3 linked regions of the Homo sapiens genome follow. The protein of the gene in region 2 purifies or fractionates together with the protein of the main gene of each other region. This does not show direct contact. Each region holds a gene or a part of one and is shown on either strand. Other genes may lie near its edges.

The links. Proteins that work in one complex are often made in the same cells at the same time.
Region 1: the proteins of CLUAP1 (region 2) and IFT172 purify together in Homo sapiens (affinity purification with mass spectrometry; 2 studies listed by BioGRID and IntAct, with this or other methods). This does not show direct contact.
Region 3: the proteins of CLUAP1 (region 2) and TRAF3IP1 purify together in Homo sapiens (affinity purification with mass spectrometry, with the first as the bait; 2 studies listed by BioGRID). This does not show direct contact.

Annotation. Positions count from the first base shown.
Region 1 is NC_000002.12:27,479,741-27,486,762, forward strand, and holds part of IFT172 (intraflagellar transport protein 172 homolog), read right to left. Parts: intron 6,503-7,022; exon of another isoform or gene 6,419-6,502; intron 5,764-6,418; coding exon 5,620-5,763; intron 5,391-5,619; coding exon 5,278-5,390; intron 4,527-5,277; coding exon 4,487-4,526; intron 4,427-4,486; exon of another isoform or gene 4,288-4,426; intron 4,198-4,287; coding exon 4,132-4,197; intron 3,920-4,131; coding exon 3,840-3,919; intron 3,637-3,839; coding exon 3,549-3,636; intron 1,521-3,548; coding exon 1,306-1,520; intron 410-1,305; coding exon 286-409; intron 1-285. UniProt on the Homo sapiens protein: Required for the maintenance and formation of cilia. Plays an indirect role in hedgehog (Hh) signaling, cilia being required for all activity of the hedgehog pathway.
Region 2 is NC_000016.10:3,531,984-3,539,005, reverse strand, and holds part of CLUAP1 (clusterin-associated protein 1), read right to left. Parts: intron 6,221-7,022; coding exon 6,165-6,220; intron 5,908-6,164; coding exon of another isoform or gene 5,851-5,907; intron 2,885-5,850; coding exon 2,735-2,884; 3' UTR 1-2,734. UniProt on the Homo sapiens protein: Required for cilia biogenesis. Appears to function within the multiple intraflagellar transport complex B (IFT-B). Key regulator of hedgehog signaling.
Region 3 is NC_000002.12:238,316,371-238,323,520, forward strand, and holds the start of TRAF3IP1 (TRAF3-interacting protein 1), read left to right. Parts: upstream 1-4,147; 5' UTR 4,148-4,292; coding exon 4,293-4,415; intron 4,416-7,150.

The sequences.
Region 1 (7,022 bases), on a different chromosome or scaffold from region 2:
ATTACCAAAAGGAAAGAGGCTACAATCATTGGACTCAAGGGCACAACATATTAATGGGATAAAAGGGAAAAACTAGCCCTGCCTACACACAATTTTTTGTCCCTTTTGTGACCTAGGGTAAAGTATGAATTTCTCTTTCCTGCCTTTAATGCCAGAATTTTAGGTCAGGGTCAAAAGGAAAGAGGAGATTCTATAGTGTCAGGGAACAGTGCTTTAGGATAAGGCAGGATTTTTTTCTAGTTTGGTGAAAGTCACCAATCCAGAAAGGGATTACTAGTAACACACCACACAGAGCCGTGAGCCATCCCGCTTCCAGGCCAAGGCAGTGATGGTGTATAAATTGGTAATCTCCTTGGGCTTTGCCTCTTCCCAGATGCTTCTTCGAGGGATCCAGTTGAACACCCGAAGCCTGAAATAAAGTATGTGGCTTTTAGAAGAGATTGAGGCTGAGCTAAAGAGTGCAAATGGGCTGATAACCAAAGGAAATTAGTCTTGCTATATCAGAAAAGAAAGGAAATAAAAAGAACAGACAAGCTAGGCAGTCTAGCAGAAGAGGATATAAAGGTGCACAGGAAATAAGCTGGGAAAATCAAGGCAAAACTAAAACAGAATAAGAGTGAGGGGAGCAGAGAAAACAAAAAGACCAGGGCAGGTGAGAAAAATAAGCTACTAGGAGCAAAAAAATATGGAACAAGGAGATAAATGGTAGGAGTCAGTGAAGAAAGAAGAGAATACAAGGAGACATAAGATTGAAGGGGATAGAAAGACAGGACTGATAAAGCTGGGGTTAAACACATGCCAGAGAAATGATGAGACCTGGAACATGGCTGTTTATCTGCTGTTCCATCATTCATTCATTCATTCGCCAAACATCTGAGCATATCTTAAATATATATAGCATATAGATGCTAATCTAGGCACTGAAAAGATGAATAATAAGCCCCCTTCTCAAGGACTCTGATTTAGCCATCTATCTGGCTAAACAACAGTAGTTTGCAAACAACAAACTGTAATATAATGTGAGAAACTCTAAGCGGTCTCAAAGGGGGCAATGGAAACAGAAAATAGAGATGAATTCTGCTGTGGAAGTGCAGGGAGCGGCACAGAGACAAAACAAGAGCCCAGGACATTTTGGAACTGCCAGCACACCAATGGATAGCGGGAGCAGGAAGAGGAAAGCGCATGAATTACATACATACATTTGATTCTGCTCCAGTCTCGCACTCTGGCTCAGAATAATTTGGCTAAAGCAGAGAGTGTTCGCAGGGAAAGTAGGCAGTAGATAAAACTGGAAAGGGGACTTACCTGTCATAACTTCCTAGCACAACAGACTGGCCCCCAGGACTTGATACAGCTGTGGTGAACTCCCGCTCCTGAGGGTCACGGCTATAATCAAAAGTTTGTAGCATGTGACCTTCTTTTCCATAGGCTACAATTTTCCGATCACAGCCTGCAGCCACGATGCTATTGGTTGCCCATGCCAAGGCATAGGGTGGACACGGGTGGTTAACCAACTTCCCCTAAGACAGAAGTAGAGGGTTTCAATCACTCTTCGAAGACTCCACCCGAGAAATTCCTCACTCTCAACACCTGGTACATTCACTCTGACCATCATACCCTGCAGAAATCTCTTCCAACATTTCCCTATCCCAACACATCCTAATCCTGAACTCTTCACAAATTGTCACACACACACACACACACACACACACATACACACACACACACACCCCTATACACATAGGGGTTGACCTTGTGCTCTAGAAAAACCTCAAAATGCTTGTATATTGGAATTTTCTTTTTTCTTTTTTTTTTTTTTGAGACAGAGTCTCACTCTGCCGCCCAGGCTGGAGTGCAGTGGCACAATCTCATCGCTGCAACCTCCGCCTCCCCAGGTTCAAGCGATTCTCCTGTCTCAGCCTCCTGAGTAGCTGGGATTACAGGTGTGTGCCACCATACCAGGCTAATTTTTCTGTTTTTAGTAGAGATGGGGTTTCACCATGTTGGTCAGGCTGGTCTCGAACTCCTGACCTTGTGATCAGCCCGTCTCAGCCTCCCAAAGTGCTGGGATCACAGGCGTGAGCCACCACGCCCAGCATGTATTGGAAATTTTTAATATGCACCTGGTAAAGCTCCTCAGAAAAGGAGATGTGCTACACATTAACCAACACCGTCTGGGCCCACAAAGAGCATAGGGCTTCTTTTTTTAAGGAGGGTCAAATTTCAGTATTATACGAATAATTCTTCTTTTTTTTTTTTTTTAGATGGAGTCTCACTCTGTCGCCGGGGCTGCAGTGCAGTGGCGCGTTCTCACCTCACTGCAACCTCCCCTCCCGGGTTCAAGCAATTCTCCTGCCTCAGCCTTCCGAGTAGCTGGGATTCCGGGCACGTTCCACCATGCCCGGCTAATTTTTATATTTTTAGTAGAGACGGGGTTTCACCATGTTGGCCAGGCTGGTCCTGAACTCCTGACCTCAGGTCATCCACCCGCCTTGACCTCCCAAAGTGCTGGGATTACAGGAGTGAGACACTGTGCCCGGCCTATACAAGTAATTCTTTTTTTTTTTGAGATGGCATTTCACTCTTGTTGCCCAGTCTGGAGTTCAATGGCATGCGATCTTGGCTCACTGCAACCTCTGCCTCCCAGGTTCAAGCGATTCTCCTGCCTCAGCCTCCCAGAAAGCTGGGATTACAGGCATGTGCCACCACGCCCAGCTAATTTTTTTGTATTTAGTAGAGACGGGTTTCACGTCAGGCTGGTTTCCAACTCCTGACCTCAGGTGATCCACCCGCCTCGGCCTCCCAAAGTGCTGGGATTACAGGCACGGCTCACAAGTAATTCTTAATGTAAATGATTCAAACAACACACAATTATATAGAGTAAAACATGAAAGTTTCCTTTTTATCCCCCATCTTTTTCCTTTCCCCTTTCCAGAGTAAACTATTAACTCTTTTTTCTATGAATCTACATACATAAATATATATATTTTACATAAATGGGAATAATTTTCACTTTTCATTACTCTAAGAGTTTTTATTTCCCTTTGTCTCAAGGTCCCTTTCACCTAATTCATCCCTTCTTATAAGCAGTAAGCTCCAGGCTCCTAAACACAAATCCTCTCAGTGGCCACATCCAACTTTTTCTCTGTCCCTGAGTTCTCCTCTAGCTTCCTCTCTTAGTATCTCAATCCAAATGCCTTAGAAGTCCAACCTCCTCTAGGAGGGCTCCTGGAATTTCCTTATCCCCTATTCCACAGCATCTTTTTTTTTTTTTTTTTTTGAGACACGGTCTTGTTCTGTCACCCAGGCTGTAGTGCAGTGGTGCTATTTCAGCTCACTTGCAGGCTCAACCTCCTGGGCTCAAGTGATCTTTCCACTTCGGCTTCCTGAGTAGCTGGGACTACAGGCCCATGCCACCATGCCCGACTAATTTTTGTATTTATTTTTTGTTTTTTTGGTAGAGACAGGGTTTCACTGTGTTGCCCATGCTGGTCTCAAACTCCTGGACTCAAGCAATCCAAGCCTCCCACAACATTCTTTATTCATACCTGTGACTCTCCAGAGCCTTCATCATCAAAGAAATACCTAACGATGGTACCATCTGCATGACCAGAGAGAATTCCTTTCCCAGAGCAACTAAAAAAGGAGAAAGGAGAGAAATACAGGAAGAGACTATTTTATCTCACCAAGAAAGCCCCTTTCTCTGTCAAACACAACCTTGTCTGTGCTTCCTGCTACCAGTTCTCCTGCCTTTCATACTATGGTCTTGCAGTCCAGACTTCCCCACAGCATTTTCCTAACACTTCCAGACTCTAGTGATACTACTCCTCTTTACTCACTTTGTTGTCAGGGACACCACGTAAGACTCTGTCCCATAGATGGTAGATGATTTATTAGTTTTGGTGTTTGCTAAACGAACCTGAAAATGGAAAAATTGATACAAGTATGGTTAGGCTATTTTATATTTAACTAGGCCCTAAGAAAAAAAGGAAAAACTGTCCCACAAAACTGGTCCCTATGCATTCTCCCCAGTACGCAACTTGATCCTAAGAAAGAGGATGAACCATATTCCTCTCTCCAGAACCATTATCCCTACCACCCCCTCTCTTGTGTTTCCCTTCCCTCTTTTACCTTCCCTTCAGCCAGTCCAAAGACAATGATGTATTCTGCCGGCCATTGCAGACAAGTGACAGCACTCTGCGTGGAAGGAAACAATGAAAAGGATAACCCCATCTGTGTGGGCCAGCACTTTTATAACAACTTCAACACCCCACCACACACCACCACCTCAATCTCCTATAGGGAAGGACACAGCAGGGCTCTAAGGAAGACAGCAGATGACCATGAACAGCCATGAAGCACCATCCTTGCAGTAGGAAAAGTCACATTCAGATGTTAGAAATGCAACTCCTGGCTGTATTTATAAGTAGATATACTGATATATGTTTGTTCATCCTAAGGTTCCAGGGACTGGTCTGAACTTTACCGTCTGGATGAACTTGTTGCAGATGACTTTCTTGTCACCCCTGCCAAACAAAAGAAGGGGAAACATATTAAAAACCACTTCCAGGCCGGGCGTGGTGGCTCATGCCTGTAATCCCAGCACTTTGGGAGGCCGAGGCGGGAGGATCATGAGGTCAGGAGATCGAGACCATCCTGGCTAACACAGTGAAACCCCGTCTCTACTAAAAATACAAAAAATTAGCCGGGTGTGGTGGTGGGCGCCTGTAGTCCCAGCTACTCGGGAGGCTGAGGCAGGAGAATTGCGTGAACCTGGGAGGAGGAGCTTGCAGTGAGCCACAATCGCGCCACTGCACTCCAGCCTGGGTGACAGAGTGAGACTCTATCTCAAAATAAATAAATAAATAAATACCACTTCCATAAACAAATTGCCAAAAATGATGCTGAGGGAAGAGAAGAAAGAGCAGATTTCTTCCCTGGCCCAGTAGTATTTCTGACTACTCTGTAGGAGCCCTGAAAGGAGGTATATGAGGGAGCCTAAGCAGCTTCAGAACAATAACAAAGATGTGACATCACTCTGGGCTTCCAGGATCTCACAGGGCCTCCTGTTGACCTTGGACTGTTTCCTCCAGGGATGGGATTGAAGAACACGTGGGACAGGTGAAGGCAGAAAAGCAAAAACAGACTCCAGAAAGTCTCTGCCTTCAATGGCCAAGCTTGGCTTCTCATCCCCTGTATTTCCCCTCCCCAGTGAGGCATTTCTCTTGCCTTCCCCTTCTTTCCTGGGCCATCCCATCTCCCAGTCTCTATCCTCACCAATCTTCTCCAATCTTGTAGACATAGATGATGTTGTCAGTCTGTCCTATGGCAATTTTAGTGGAATCAGGAGAAAAAGCCATGCCCTTCACCATATAGCTCTTCCTGCCATACTAAGAGTTTAAAAAAAAAAAAAGAAAGAAAAAGAAGTAATGAGTACACATGAAAGAGAAAAGAGAAAAAAAGGCATATGTGTGCTCCTAAGGGAGCTTGAGGATTTATACTGAGAAAAAGGTGGGGTATGCCATTTCCTATGCTGATGGCTAGAAGGCAGACTACGTCTTTCAAGTTGTGAGACCCCATCAATAGGTTAAATAAGGTACACATGAATACACTGTTTACCTTCATGTCAGCTGGTTTGGTGGAGAATTTATCTCTCCGTTCTCCATGTTCATCATACAGCAAGACCACTCGGTCCACTGTGCAGACAGCAAATTTGGCATTGTTCTGGGACCAAGCCATGCAGGTCACCTTTGCAGCTCCATCCTGTAGAGGCAAAGGGGTAAAAACAAACCCATGTGCTGGTCTAGAATGCCAAAAGCATTTCTAGCTTCATTAATTCTAGTGTAATACTGGTCAATTTTCTTCCTGTCACGGTTCTATCCTCAAAACAAAGAGATGCCTGTGGCCCATGCTGGTCTCCAAGGCCTTCAGATCCTGGACTGTGAGAACAACAGGCTTCTAGAGACTCATATGCAAATGCACTAAGAGGCAGGGTGCTAAGTCAACTGTATCAATGAATCCCTGCAACGGCCTCCTCGTTTCCAGGTCTGCTACTGAAATAAATTCAATTAGTCTGGTAAGTTTTGGTCATTAGCCATTCATTCAATTAATATTTTTTTAGCACCTTATTGATCAAGGCACTTGGCCAGGGGCTGAGAGAGAGACAAAAAGCAAACCATAGATCCTGCCTCCACGTCTAATAAGATGGTGCAAAATAGAAAAGTCCTATTAAAGTATGTATAAAGTACTACAATAGTTTGGAGAAGCCTGAGAGAATTTTATGCTTAAATTATCAAAATTAAGCTTTGAAGAATGAATGCAGTTGAGTAGGAAGTTATCTGAGATGGGAGGAATGGCAATGAGCAAAGGCAAATTCTGGACAAGAAACAGTAATTTAGTTTATTTGAAACTATTATACCTTATAAATAGTAGAATAGACGGGGTAAGGCAGGAAAAACAGGCCAGCTCAGGAAGTCTTTGAAGCCAGGCAAAGGAGTTTGGGCTTATTTGAAAGGAAAGGGAGAGACAGTGAGAGTTCAGGATGGGCGAGTACGAGTTGAGACTCAGGACGAATAATCCCACTTTCTTTTCTTCTTAACTACCCACTTCAGAGAAACCCAAGTTAGAAGTTATCTCCAGGTGAATTATTCTGACCAGATCTGACCCTTCCAACACTAGCTCTGGTCCTAAGGGACTAGCTCTGCTACTAAGGGTTTCCTTCCTTGAAAACAAAACATTTTATTCTGCTTTTCTTCTGCCCCAATTGTTTAATTATTTGGACACTAGAGTTCTGGCTTCAAACATTGACACTTTACACTCCAAACTCACCTATCTCCAAAGTCAGAAGTAAAAAGTCTATTTTCCTGCAAATCCTCAAACCAGAAAATAGCCACACCACCATCACTATGATCCTCTAACTCTTCATTATATTAGGTTAGAAGGCCTGAGGGCTCCTCATCAATCTTTGCTGATCCTCCTGCTTTATCGCTTTGCCCAATTCTGGGCATTCAGCCCTACCTGCA
Region 2 (7,022 bases):
TTTTTTTTTAAAGCATTTTAGGAAGTCCTCTAATTATATAGTAAAAATTGTCAGCAATGGCCTGCTAGTTTTCTATTTGACCTAATCACAACCATCCTCGTTAGGTCCTGAGGTCTGCTCTGCTGCTTGGCCAAAACCAAATGGTGCCAGGTCACAAAGCACTTGCACATGTGAATCCTGCATCCATTCTACAATGGGTCACTATTGACTGAAATACTTTAATAAAAATGATAGAGCACATAAAGCTTGCTGTTGACAGAAACTTCCGTGCTCAAGCAAGGCAGTGCTATACATGGTGAGACCTTGCACAAAGTCAGTTAACTAACAGATGATCTAGAAGCAGGTGACACAATGAAATACCCTTTGGAGCTGTTGCCTATGTCTGTGGATAGGCTCTTTGTAGCTAGGTTAGGCTTCTGTGTTAAAGTGTGTTAGAAGAAAGCATCACATAAGGAAAATAGAACTCTATTCGTATGTTTTTTCAAAACAGAAGTCAAGTCACATTCAGGCAAACCAAATCTGTAACATTCAAGAAGATGCAGTGACTCTTCCGCATCTTAGAGCCACGGTGTCTGAGGTGGCTGGCATGGCTCCAACACGCTGGCTTCCCTGTCAGTGGATCATTTACAATATGGTGCATTTCAAATTACTGGTGAATTCACTGAATACTGGCTGTTTTTTTTTTTTTAGGGGTAATCTTATACATAAAATTTAGGAAAAGAAAGAGAAAAAAGCAAAAATGACAGAAATAACTCAAAAGTTCCTAAAATTTATGTGTATCTTTTCGTACCTGTGAACTCCTGAATAAGTATTTATATCTGACAGGTACAAATACAATAATTATATTTTTAAGTAAAACCTATTTAATAATATGAAGTATGGTGTTAAATACATGTATTAAAAGATAAGTAACTTCAGAAGTCTTCTGACTTTTTAATTGTAAAATAAGTGAAAACTGTTTTGTGCTTTTTTATTTACTGTATGCTTTTTTTTTTTTTTTTTTTTTTGAGATGGAGTCTCACTCTGCTGCCCAGGCTGGAGTGCAGTGGCGCCATCTCGGCTCACTGCAACCTCCGCCTCCTAGGTTCAAGCGATTCTCCTGCCTCAGCCTCCCCAGTAGCTGGGGTTACAGGCATGCGCTACCACGCCCGGCTAATTTTTGTATTTTTAGTAGAGGTGGGGTTTCGCCATGTTGGCCAGGCTGGTCTCAAACCCCTGACCTCAGGTGATCTACCCACCTCAGCCTCTCAAAGTGCTAGGATTACAGGCATGAGCCACCACGCCTGACCTACTGTACGCTTTTTACAAGCAGCGTGCTTTTCTTTTTCTTTTTTTTAAAGACAGGGTCTCACTCTGTCACCCAGGCTGGAGTGCAGTGGCATGATCACGGCTCATTGCAGCCTCAACTTCCTGGTCTCAAGTGATTCTCCTGCCTCAGCCTCCTGAATAGCTGAGACCACAGGCATGCCCCTCCACACCTGGCTAATTTTTTAATTTTTTGTAGAGATGGAGTCTCACTTAGTTGTCCAGGCTAGTCTAAAACTCCTGGGCTCAAGTGATCCTCCCACCTTGGCCTCCTGAGTAGCTGGACCCAAGGGCGCTTGCCACCACTCCCAGCTAAGTACTTTTCATATTAAAAAAAAAGAAGAAGAAAAAAGAAAAAAACCAACTCCACTTCTAATTTCACAACAGAAAAATTCTTCTAGTGCTATTACTCTACTTAATTCAATCCTGTGTTGTTGTTTTTTTAAATCAGAAACATGAATCTGTACCAACACTTTTTCTTAATTGGCTCCTTCCCCTACAGAAACACTTAGGTAGCGAGCTGCAGGAAACCTGCCTTTGTCCCTGTGTTGTGCACTATGTCTTGCCACACTTTAGACAAAACAAAGCTCCTTTAGAGAAACCCTGGCTGGAGGGAAGAAAAGTGTCCCGGCTGTCATTGCCATGGGAGTCTGGAGTTTCTGAGAGGGCAGCCCAGGTCACCAGAGTTTCCAGATTTAGTACCAACCGTGGAAACATGAAGGTGGCTGTAATCCAAGGTGAACTGGACTGCCAGAGGAATGTCAGCTTCGGACAGAAAATGGAGGATTCCTCATCTGGAGCCTGTCTCTATTGCCTGATTTTCAAAGAAACCAAGTTTTCATTTAACTTTAGCTAACCTTCTTTCAGAAAAGTTTAGTTATTAAAATACATTTAATGCTTGGTATTGTGAACATGCAGACGAAAGAAAATAAGATTACAAAATGAAATAAGAGCTAGAATTAAAAGCCGATGTATAGGAAATGTTCTCAACTGTGCAAGTGATTAACAGCCAGATGTTCCCCTACGATTCCAAACATGAGTCCCCAGTGCCAAGTTCCAGCCCCAACTCTGCTGGAGTCTCAGAGAAAATGTATAGTAACAAAAGCAGCCAAGACTTGTGTGGCGTCAGCTCTTATTTCTTCTTGAGTTTTTGTCCCGTGGATGTGAATCACTAAGAACACATGCATTCCTCAAGTTTTAGAAGATAAATAAGGTGGAAAAAAATAAATCTTAGGGATTTGCTTCAATTCTTATTTAAGCTTCATGGAATGCAAACATAGGAGGCTAAAGCAGAAATAAGTATTGCTTCAGTGATCATGAGTCCAGCCAGCTTAGTAAACAAAACAGGGGTTACCTTCCTAACCTTCTAAGTTCCCATTTACCTACAAGTCTGAGGGTTTTAATCTGCCAGGGTCCCTTGGCAAAAGGGTCAGAAGTCATTGTCACTCTCATCCAGGGGTTCAGATTTCCGGACCCTTCGATTGGGCTTGGTTGGTGAGAGAGAAATGCTCTCGTCTTCCAAATCGTCATCCTCGTCATCATCATCTTCCATGTCAATTTCACTCTCCTCCGAGTCCTCCTATAGGAAAAAAATGGCAGATGCAACGGGGGATCCTGCCTCATTCCTGACATCTTGTCCTAAGACTCTCTGCCTCCCTTTCTATAGCAGCATCCCTGTGTGAAGGAAGAGGCTGGCAGAGTGGCAAGCAGGCTGTGGGAGGGCATACAGATGGGACTGAGGCTATGTACTGCCAGCTGGAATTTATCATCCAACCAGAATCCTCCAAACTGCAGGTGCATCTGGGTGTGGTGCTGCAGGGGCTGGCTTTCCCGCAGCGTCTAAGAAGCACTCTGCATCTGCGCTGAGGGCCACTGGACCTAGAGACTCCCCCTACAGATGGCAAGAAGGACAGGGGCTTGGAGAGAGGGAAGGGAGGCCTGTTTTGGCTTTTTGTAGATTGTGGATGGAAAGCAACATAGACATTGGTATAAGGAGCAAAGTGAATCCCAGCTACTCCGGAGACTGAGGCAGAAGAATCGCTTGAACCTGGGAGGCAGAGGTGCAGTGAGCCGAGATTGCACCACTGCACTCCAAAGCAAGACTCCATCTCAAAAAAAAAAGAAAAAAAAGAAAAAAAGGGAGCAAAGTGAAAGACACACCCTCTCTCTCCTCATCGGATCCAGGGCTCCAGGGTGACCAACTCAGCCCAGCTTTAAAACGGCAGTTCCTGCGTCCCATGTAAACCAGGATGGCTGGTCGTTCTATCTAGATCATTCCTGTCGGTGCACACTCATGCTGTAATTTCCTTCTTGAAAAAAAACCCCAAAGGTAATCCCACCTTCCTCTCCAGCTGCTCTGCCCTGTCTCTCTCCCCTCACACAAAGCTCCTGAGCGAGTCGTTGAACTCACTGTCCACACCTGTGCCCCTCACGACTGCTTCAGTTCCCCCGGGCTCTCACCTACTGACCCCAGCACTGCTCCTGTCAAGAAGGAAACATTCAACGGACTGGGATCGATTCTCAGGCCTCATCCTGCTTGAGCTGTGGAATCACCCCTTCATCCTTAAAACCCATCTTCTCCATCCCCCAGGGCCCCTTCTCTAGTCCAGGTCCCCCTTCCTCACTGCTGACGCCCCTCAGCCTCCTCTGCCTGCCCCTTCCTCCCGGACCTCTGCAGGGCAGATGCAGCTCAGGACCTTGGGTCGCCTCTCTTCTCATTCTACTTGCTCTCCCTAGGCAGTCACATCTATCCTTGTGGCTTAGATACCAACCAAATAAGGGTGGCTCCCAAAATTCAATCTCTAGCCCAGACGTGGCCCTTGAACTCCAGACTTAAATTCCACCTGGCTACTCAACCCTAGCATGTGGCTGTCACATTCAGAATGTCCAAAATCAAACTTTCGATCTGCCTTCCAAGCCCCTTTGTCAAGTCGGCCCCATCTCAGAAAATGAAACTCTGCTTTCTGCTGATTAGACCAAGCCCAGGCACCCTCATTTTTCTCTTTCTCTAACAGCCTATGTCCAATCAATTCACAAAACCTGATGGTTCTTAGAGAGACCCAGGACCTGACCATTTCTCAACACCTCTGCTGCCACACCTTCGGCCAAGCACCGTCACCTCTGACCTCCACGGGTGCAGGCGCCTCCTAACTGGCTTCTCTCAAACAGGGATCATCAGCTCTTGACCCTTCTGGGCTCATGATTCTTCAGGGCCTTCCCCTCACACTCAGAGAAAACAGAGTCTTCATCTCACCCTGCAAAGCTCTGCATGGCCCCTGCTGCCTCTCGCACTCACCCACAATCACACCAGCTGCCTCTGCTCCTCGATGCGAGGAGTGCATTCCACATGCCCAGGTGCCGCCAACCCATGCGCTCGCTCCCTCCACTCAGGCCCTGCTCAAACACCACCACGTCAGGGGCCTTCACTGACCTCGCAGAAGACGCCACCCCCTCCTTGTTCCCTGTCACTCCCTGTCCCCTGAAGCTGTTATTCCTCCTGTTAACACCATGAGCCCTGATCCGACAATCCATCATTATTGCTGGGGTGTGAGCCATGAAGCAGGGGCTTGCCTCTGCCCCTGCTGCGTTCCCCATAATCCACGACAGCACTGGCATGTGGCAGGCACTCAACAGACACGTGTTGGATGCCTGAACACGTAAAGCATGGAACCCTGTGCCTGGAGGGCGGCATGGACACAGCCTCCTTGAAATAAACAAGTGACCACCAGGCATAAAGCTCAGCTGCGACTAATGCATTCGCTCTGAGGAGAGAGAAGGCAAACCCTGGAGAAGAGGCAGGCGGTGCTGCCTCAGCATTGCCAGCACCCACGCCACACTCCCTCTGCTTCTGTCTTGGGTGGGCAAGACGGAGAGACGCTGTATACCATCCACACCCGAGCTTGTTAGGAAAATTATTTTCCAGTTGCTCTCTCTGCTTCTCTACAGACTGTGCCCTGTAAATTCAGGGCACATGGAGGCAGCCTGGGGTCAGTCTCTGTTGAGTCGCCCTTTGCTGTGTGGGCCGAGCAGCACTGCCAGGGACGCAACAAAGAACGTAGGCTTGAGCAATGGGCGGCAGAGCCCTGATGACTGGACCTCACTGAGGACCCCTAGAATCCCCTTTTGCTTAAGTGCTCCAGGGAGTTATCCACTCAGTAAAGCTCAAGGCAGCTTATGTCTCAGCCTCATGCCTGGCACCTCGAGGGCCTGGTCTGGGGACAGTGCTGCTTCACCATTCCGTCCCCAGCACAGAACAGGGAGGGGGGTTGGTCCTGAGCCCGGCCCTCGGCGTCCTCCTTCATTTCTAGGTGGCGGCCCAGGGCCTGAGGATGGCCCGGCCTGAGCTTTCCCCGCCTCCAGGCTCCGTGCCTGCGCCTCCACTTTAGCACAGGGGCCTTCAGTGATCCCGCTGTCACCACAGGATCTCTTTTGAGTGGCCTTTTTGCCCAGGAGAGAGGAAGCATCACTCCTAGGGAGAGGCCCCTGGCTGGCCCCGGGAGGGCTGACAGACACCCACAAACACATGAGGCAGAACAGAAAACCAACCTGCTTCTTGGAGCTGGAAGTCTTGCATTTACCTAAGAGAGCTGGTGCTGCTTCCATCTTTGGAAAGCGAGAATGGAAAGAACAGTGAGAAGGCAAAAAAAGCAGAGCAAGCACATTCACTTGAAAAGAGATGAGCCATCCACGAGCAACGAAGAGTCCAGAGCCTCATGAGGCCAAACCCTGCCACGCATCGAGGCACGGCCGGGCTGACCATAGACGGCTCCCTGGCTGCTGACAGCAACTCAGCCACTCCCATCTATGGGGACAGCCAAACCCAGAGTGCACAGAACCACTGAGGGGAGCGGGGGACTTACATTGTCATCGGAGTCTCCACCTTGCATCGTGCCCACAATGCGTTTGCCAGGTCTTCCTGAGAACAACAAAAGCATGAAGAAGTCATAAAAATCTTGGAAAATAAAGCAGGAAATAGCATTCAAGATTTGTTTTCTGGCCAGGCATGTTGGCTTTTGCGTATAATCCCAGGAATTTGGGAGGCTGAGACAGGAGGCCAGGAGTTTGAGGCCAGCCTGGGCAACATAATGAAACCTCATTTCTACAGAAATTTTTTTAAACATTAGCCAGGTATGGTGGTTCACACCTGTAGTCTCAGCTACTCGGGAGGCTGAGGCAGGAGACTCGCTTGAAACCAGGAAGCAGAGGTTGCAGTGAGCTGAGATCGTGCCACTGCACTCTAGCGTGAACGACAGAATGAGATTCTGTCTCCAAAAAAAAAAAAAAAAAAAAAAAAAAAAGCAACTGTGCTCCAAACATTAACAGGTGGTAGATAAGAAATGTTTTTAAAGGCAAATATAGGAGAATTTTATAGTATTAAAATAAAAATTTATGGAACCTTTGACCTAAGAATTTGACTTTTAATGATGCAACCTAAAGATATGCAGACATGCAGAAAGATGTATATACAAGGAAAAGAGGGGAAATATCAATGCGAGAACGCCCAGTAAATCATGGGTACAGTCCTGCTAGGAATATGACATAGCCATTAAAAAGTAGGGGGCAGGCCAGGAGTGGTGGCTCAGGCCTGTAATCCCAGCACTTTGGGAGGCCGAGGCGGGTGGATCACCTGAGGTTGGGAGTTCGAGACCAGCCTGGCCAACATGGTGAAACCCCGTCTCTACTAAAAATACAAAAATTAGCTGGGTGTGGTGGCACGG
Region 3 (7,150 bases), on a different chromosome or scaffold from region 2:
CTCTCGGCCGAGTCTCACACAGCCAGCCCACCTGCAAGGTGCAGTGTAGGAGGAAGCAAGGCCAACAGTTAGAAGGAGATGAGCCCTGGCCCCTTTCATCTGGCCTCTGTCTAGGTGACCAAAGCTCACTTGGTCCTGGATATAGTTAGCAGCATGAGGAGTGATGTTCCTAGGACCAGTGGACAGCATGGACGCTGCCTTCTAGAAGGTCTTAACTCCCCATTAAATCCCCAGCACTCAGACAGTAATCCATACATAGCAGTGATTCAGTAAATGCTTGAATGATACTTGATGTGGTATCTTCACTAGAGATATATGAATATTTAGCAAGGGCAGGGAAATATGCTCAAAATCACTAATCACTACAGAAATGTAAATAGGAACCATAACAAGACACCATTCCACACCCGTAGAAAGATGAACGTTAAAAAAGACTGACAGGGGCCGGGTGCGGTGGCTCACGCCTGTAATCCCAGCACTTTGGGAGGCTGAGGTGGGTAGATCTTGAGGTCAGGAGATTGAGACCATCCTGGCCGACATGGTGAAACCCTGTCTCTACTAAAAAATACAAAAAATATCTGGGCGTGGTGGCAGGCACCTGTAGTCCCAGCTACTCAGGAGGCTGAGGCAGGAGAATGGCATGAACACGGGAGGCGGAGCTTGCAGTGAGCCAAGACAGTGCCACTGCACTCCAGCCTGGGCGACAGAGCAAGACTCTGTCTGCGGGGTGGCGGGGGGGTGCAGGTGGGAAGACTGACAGGCTGGGCACAGTGGCTCACACCTGTAATCCCAGCACTTTGGGAGGCCAAGGCGGGCAGATCACCTGAGGTCAGGAGTTCGAGACCAGTCTGGCCAACATGGTGAAACCCCATCTCTACTGACAATACAAAAATTAGCTGGGTATGGTGGCGGGTGCCTGTAATCCCAGTTACTCAGGAGACTGAAGCAGGAGAATCACTTGAACCCAGGAAACAGAGGTTGCAGTAAGCTGAGAGCATGCCATTGCACTCCAGCCTGGGCAACAGAGCAACACTCCATCTCAAAAAAAAAAAAAAAAAAAAAAAACCCAAAAACAAAAAGAAGAAGAAAAACAAAAAGACTGACAATACCAGATGTTGGCAGGGATATGGAGTAACTTGGGATTCAATATATTGCTGGTGGGAATGAATGATGATGCAGCCACTTTAAAAACAGCATGGTAGTATTTGTAGAGTTAAACATATTCTTACCATACAACCCAACAATTCCAATACAAGAGAAATGAAAACTTTCACAAAGACTTGTAAGTGAATGGTTATAGCAGCATTTTTTTTTTTTTTGAGACAGAGTCTCACTCTGTCACCCAAGCTGGAGTTCAGTAACACGATCTCAGCTCACTGCAACCTCCGCCTCCCAGATTCAAACATTTCTTGTGCCTCAGCCTCCTGAGTAGCTGGAATTACAGATGCACCCCACCACGACTGGCTAATTTTTGTATTTTTAGTAGAGACAGGGTTTCACCACATTGGCCAGGCTGGTGCTGAATCCCTGACCTCAAGTGATCTGCCCACCTTAGCCTCCTGAAGTGCTGGGATTACAGGTGTGAGCCACCATGCCTGGCCAGCAGCATTATTCATAAAAAATAAAAAACTGAAAGCAACCCAAATGTCCATCAACTGATGAATAAACAAATTACACTATGAAATACCATTCAGCCACAAAAAGGAATGGCATATTAATATACGTGTAACAATATGAATGAATCTCAAAAATATAAGAGAAATAATGAAATACAAAAGACTGTGTACTGCATGATTCCATTTATATGAAACTCTAGAAGAGGCAAAATTATAATGACAGAAACCAGATTAGTGGCTGCCTGGGGCTGGGGTGGGGAAGGAGATGGGCTGCAAATAAGCAGCAAGAAATGTTTTAGGGTGCAGGGACTGTTCTGTATTCTGATTGTGGTGGTGGTAACATAATTGTATATAATTACCAAAATGTATCAACCTGCACACTTAAAATGTGTGAATTTTATTGTATGTAAATAATAAAATATAAATTTTAAGTAGAAGAGACCCCCACATCTAGATATACCATGTGCAAACTTCTGGCAAACCAATAATAAAAATAAAATCTTGAAGGCAGCCAGAAACAATAGACAGAAGAACAAAGAATTACGGAAGACTTTTATTCAGAAACTACGCAAGCCAGAAGTCAATGGAGTAACATCCTTAAAGTACTGAAAAACAAAAACAGTCAGTCTAGAATGCTACACTTTTCTTTTTGTTTGTTTTTGTTTTTTAAAGACAGAGTCTTGCTCTGTTGCCCAGGCAGGAGTGCAGTGGTGCCATCTTGGCTCACTGCAAGCTCCAACCCCCGGGTTCAAGCGATTCTTGTGCCTCAGCCTTCCAAGTAGCTGGGGTTACAGGCACACACCACTACGCCCAGCTAATTTTTATATTTTTAGTAGAGACAGGCTTTCACCATTTTGGCCAGGCTGGTCTCAAACTCCTGACCTTAAGTGATCTGCCTGCCTCAGGCTCCCAAAGTGCTGGGATTACAGGCGTGAGCCACTGTACCCCTAGAATTCTTTTTTTTTTTTTTTGAGACGGAGTCTCACTCTGTCACCCAGGCTGGATTGCAGTGGCATGACCTCGGCTCACTGCAAGCTCTGTCTCCTGGGTTCAGGTGATTCTCTTGCCTCAGCCTTCCTGGTAGCTGGGATTACAGGCGCCCGCCTCTGCACCCAGCTAATATTTTGTATTTTAAGTAGAGACGGGGTTTCACCATGTTGGTCAGGCTGGTCTCGAACTCCTGACCTCCCAACTCTAGAATTCTATACTTCTATGCTTAATAAATATTTGTGGCTGAATTTACTGGAGGTGGTTATAGGGGGACATGGAAGGAAAACTATAAAAATGCAATTTAGTATTTGTTGATAAACCATACAGCCTGACTGGCATTGAAATTGGTTGTCTGTATAACTTTTCCATTACCAACTGAACTGTGCTAGAAGAAATATTAAAGGAAGTTCTTCAGACAGGAGGGGTATGACACCAGATGGCGATTTAGATCTCCACAAAAAATGAGGAGGCCTGAAAATGGTAAAAATGAAGGTCAATTTAAAAGTTATAATGGGGGCGGTCGCGCACACCTGTAATACCAGCACTTTGGGAGGCCGATGCGGACGGATTGCCTGAAGTCAGGAGTTCCAGACCTGCCTGGCCAACATGGTGAAACCCCGTCTCTACTAATAATGCAAAAGCGAGGCTGGTGTGGTGTCGGGAGCCTGAAGTCGCAGCTACTCATGAGGCTGAGGCAGGAGAATCACTTGAACCTGGGAGGTGGAGGTTGCAGTGAGCCAAGATCGTGCCACTGCACTCCAGCCTGGGCGACAGAGTCAGACTTCGTCTCAAAAAAAAAAAAAGGTTATAATGGTGTTCTCATTAGAAGAACTACAGACCCCAGAGCTCTCAAATCGCCGGAAGGATTTCTGCGGTAGGCCTGTGCATGATGGACAGAGGACAGGTGGTAAAGAATCACGGACACCTAGTAGGACAACTAGGCATGGCTTTGTCCCGGTTTCAGAGCACCGACACAGCATTTAGTCACCATTTACCTTCTTGGGAGGTGGGTTAGGCAGCGGGCACACTAGTCCTGCTTTGTGGGAGCAGAAGTGAAGTCTCAGAGAAAACAGGTGACTTGCCCAAGAAGCCTTATTAATTACCAGCCAGGACAGCGTATTTTCTATTCCGTGTGTTTTGGGATAACTTAGTGCCGTCCCCTCCGATGAACCAGTGCCTTCGAAAGCCCTTGAGATTTGGGAAACAGGCGGCACAGATCTTGGAGGTTACCTTGTTCTTAATCAGTCCTCAGGCAGTCGCCTCTAACGCGAGCGAACACCGGCTTCCCGAGGCCGTCGCTCGGCAGAGGAGGGGCCAGGCGCCCGATCCCAGATCCCCTTTCCCCGCCCCGCCGCGCCCCGCCTGCTCTGGCACAGCCGCACTCCCGCAAATCCCTCCCGCGGAACCCCCACTCCTGCCTGCGCGGGCGCTGGAAGGCGGGCAGGGGGCGGGGCGCCGCGGCGCGTCCGTTGCTAAGGCCGCGCAGCCCTAGTGACCGAACGCCCTGCGGCGGCCGCGCAGGCGCTGTGGTGGGCTCCGGTGCACTGTGGGATGGAAACCGGAGCGGCGCGTCCTGGCAGGACCGGGCGGCGGCGGCGGCGGGGCCGGCGGCGGCCAGGGACCCGGGCTTAGGCTCGGCCAGGCCGGCTGAGGGGCGCGGGCGGCCAGCGGGCGGCGGACGCCGTCATGAACGCGGCGGTGGTGAGGCGGACGCAGGAGGCGCTGGGGAAAGTGATTCGGAGGCCGCCGCTGACCGAGAAGCTGCTGAGCAAGCCCCCGTTCCGCTACCTGCACGACATCATCACGGAGGTGGGCGCCGGGGACCGGGCCCGGCCAGGTGCGGGTCGGGATTCCGGTGGGCGCCGAGGTCAGGGCCCGGGCCGGGTGGCGCCGGGTGCGAGCCGGGCTCGGGCTCAGGTGCGGGTCGGGGGCCGGGGCTGGGCCGGAGTCGGGGCCCGGGCCGGGTGTGAACCGGGTGTGGGCCGGGCTCGGGGTGCAGGTCGGGGACCTGTTCAGGGCCGGGTGTGGGCCGGGCACAGGGTGCGGGTCGGGGGCCGGGGTCAGTTCCGGGGTCGGGGCGAGAGTTCTGTGCGGCCCCTGCCTGGGAGCCCGGCCTGTAGGCCCAATTCCGCGGCGCCCTCCGTGAGGAGGTCCTGCCCCTCCCCCGGCTCCGGGCCGCCGCTTACAAGGAGGCTCCGGGCCCTCAGGAGCATTCTTACTTCTTCCCTGCCTGCCCTTGTATTTCCTTAGAGTGCATCTTCCATTATTGCTGGCAGAGCTGCTTCTGTGACTCCTGCCTCGTCTAACCTTGCAGAACCCCTCTCGCTTGCCCTGAAGTATGTAGCACGTGGAAGGCACTCCCTAAATCCTGGGAGAATGGAAATAATATTTTTTATACAACCCTTCTGCCCCAAAGTTTCCCTCCATACCACATTTTGGGTGCTTAATAAATGCCTGCGGGTGGATTTAGTGGAGGCGGCTGTAGGGGGACTTGGCAGGAAAGACTGTAACAGAGCTGCACAGCCTGCCCTACGTTGAGATTGGTGGTCTCTGTAGCTTTTTCCACTTGCGGATGGTGTGCTCCTCCGTGACGGAGACCCTGGCTTGCTTATTAGCATGGCTCTGGTGATCTGCACTGGGTAAGGTACATAGAAATTGCACAACAAACATCCCCTGTTGAGTGGGACCTGTCAAGGCTCGTGGTAACTCCCTGGTAACTCTCAGGAGCGTCACTGCAGCGGGCGCAGCACCCATTTCCATGGTGGACCCAAGGGCACGTGGGAACTCAGAGGTGTGTTTTGGGATTTAGGATTCAGGTTGGACTTGCAGACTTCCAGGGCCTCATGACCTCACCTGGTGATGGTCCTCAAGCTCTGTTTCTCACTCTTTTCAACAGGTTGGGTGCCTTATTCTTGCACAGACTTTGCTTTACTGGTTCTGCCCTCCTACCTTAGCTTATAACGTGTGGTCTCCTGGAGCGTGTGCCTCTGTGTTAAAACAGTGCCTAAAAATGCTCTCGAATCCACCCACATCCCAGGGCCTCGCCAGCCCTGGTCATGTCCTCCCAGCTGGTGCAGCACTTACAGCCTGTCCTGGACAGTGTGTGGGGAGAGGACCTGCTGTGTGGATAGCCCGGTGGGAGGGGGACAATGTGCCGCATCACCACCGTCCCGTGAAGTAGGCGGGTACCCGTCCTCTGACCCAGAGGGAACAAGAGCCAGTGTGAGCCCAGCCCACTCTAGCTGTGGCTGCCAAAACCTTTATTCTCCCAGGCCTGTCTGTCCCACTGAAATGCAGAGCCCCAGGAGGGAGGTGCAGGGAGTGTGCCTTATCCTTGTGGGGCAGTGATGGCGCTCAGCTCACGGTGGCTGTCCAGTCACTACCGCATAGTTGGTCAGAGGAATCCTAATGGGAGAGGAGGAGGAACATGGGCTGGGTGCTGTGGCTCACGCCTGTAATCCCAGCACTCTGGGAGGCCAAGGCGGGCAGATCACTTGAGCCCAGATGTTCAAGACCAGCCTGGCCAACATGGTTAAAACTCCATCTCTACTGAAAATACAAAAATTAGCTGAGTGTGGTGGTGCACCTGTAATCCCAGCTACTCAGGAGGCTGAGTAGGGAAGATTGCTTGAGCCGGGAAGGTTGAGGATGCAGTGAGCTGTGATTGTAACACTGCACTCTAGCCTGGGTGACAGAGTAAGACCCTGTCTCAAAAAAAAAAAAAAAAAAAAAAAAAAAGAATTGCCTTCTTGGCCAGGTAGATAGGGTGTGTGGAACGAGTTGCATGTTCCCAATTAGGAACGACTGGTCTGCTCTTCTCCCATAGACTTCCTCATCTAATGCCAAAGTTGATTTCTCTCCCTGTGTAAAGATAAATAAATTATGACCTACTTGATAAAGTTGTTAGAATGACTGACATATTGGAAAGGATTTTCAGATAATAGGTGGAGAGCCTCTTATGAAAATGCTTTACTGTACTGAATATTATACACACATTGCTATATTAGTATTTTAGCTATAGCTACACTAACCACCCCGTTTCATTAAGCTAAGTGTGGATACTGTGACGTTAATGTCTCTTGTCACTTACAGTTATTGTTCACAATTTTTTTTTTTTTTTTAGAGGGATTCTTGCTCTGTCGCCCAGGCTGGAGTGCAGTGACACAGTCTCCACTCACTGCAACTTACGCCTCCCAGGTTCAAGCAATTCTCCTGTTTCAGCCTTCTGAGTAGCTGGGACTGCAGGCACATGCCACCATGTCCAGCTAATTTTTCTATTTTTAGTAGAGATGGGGTTTCGCCATGTTGTCCGGCCTGATCTCGAACTCCTGACCTCAGGTGATCCGCCTGCCTCGGCCTCCCAAAGTGCCGAGATTACAGGTGTGAGCTACTGTACCCAGCCTATTGCTCACAATTTTAACTGCCAGCATCCTGGGAAAACCTCAACAGGGACAAAATGAAAATGTTCCAGGAATGTTAAATGCAGGATGCTCTTAATATTCTACCTGTCATCTCAAGAAAAACAGTAGCATAGCTCTTACATA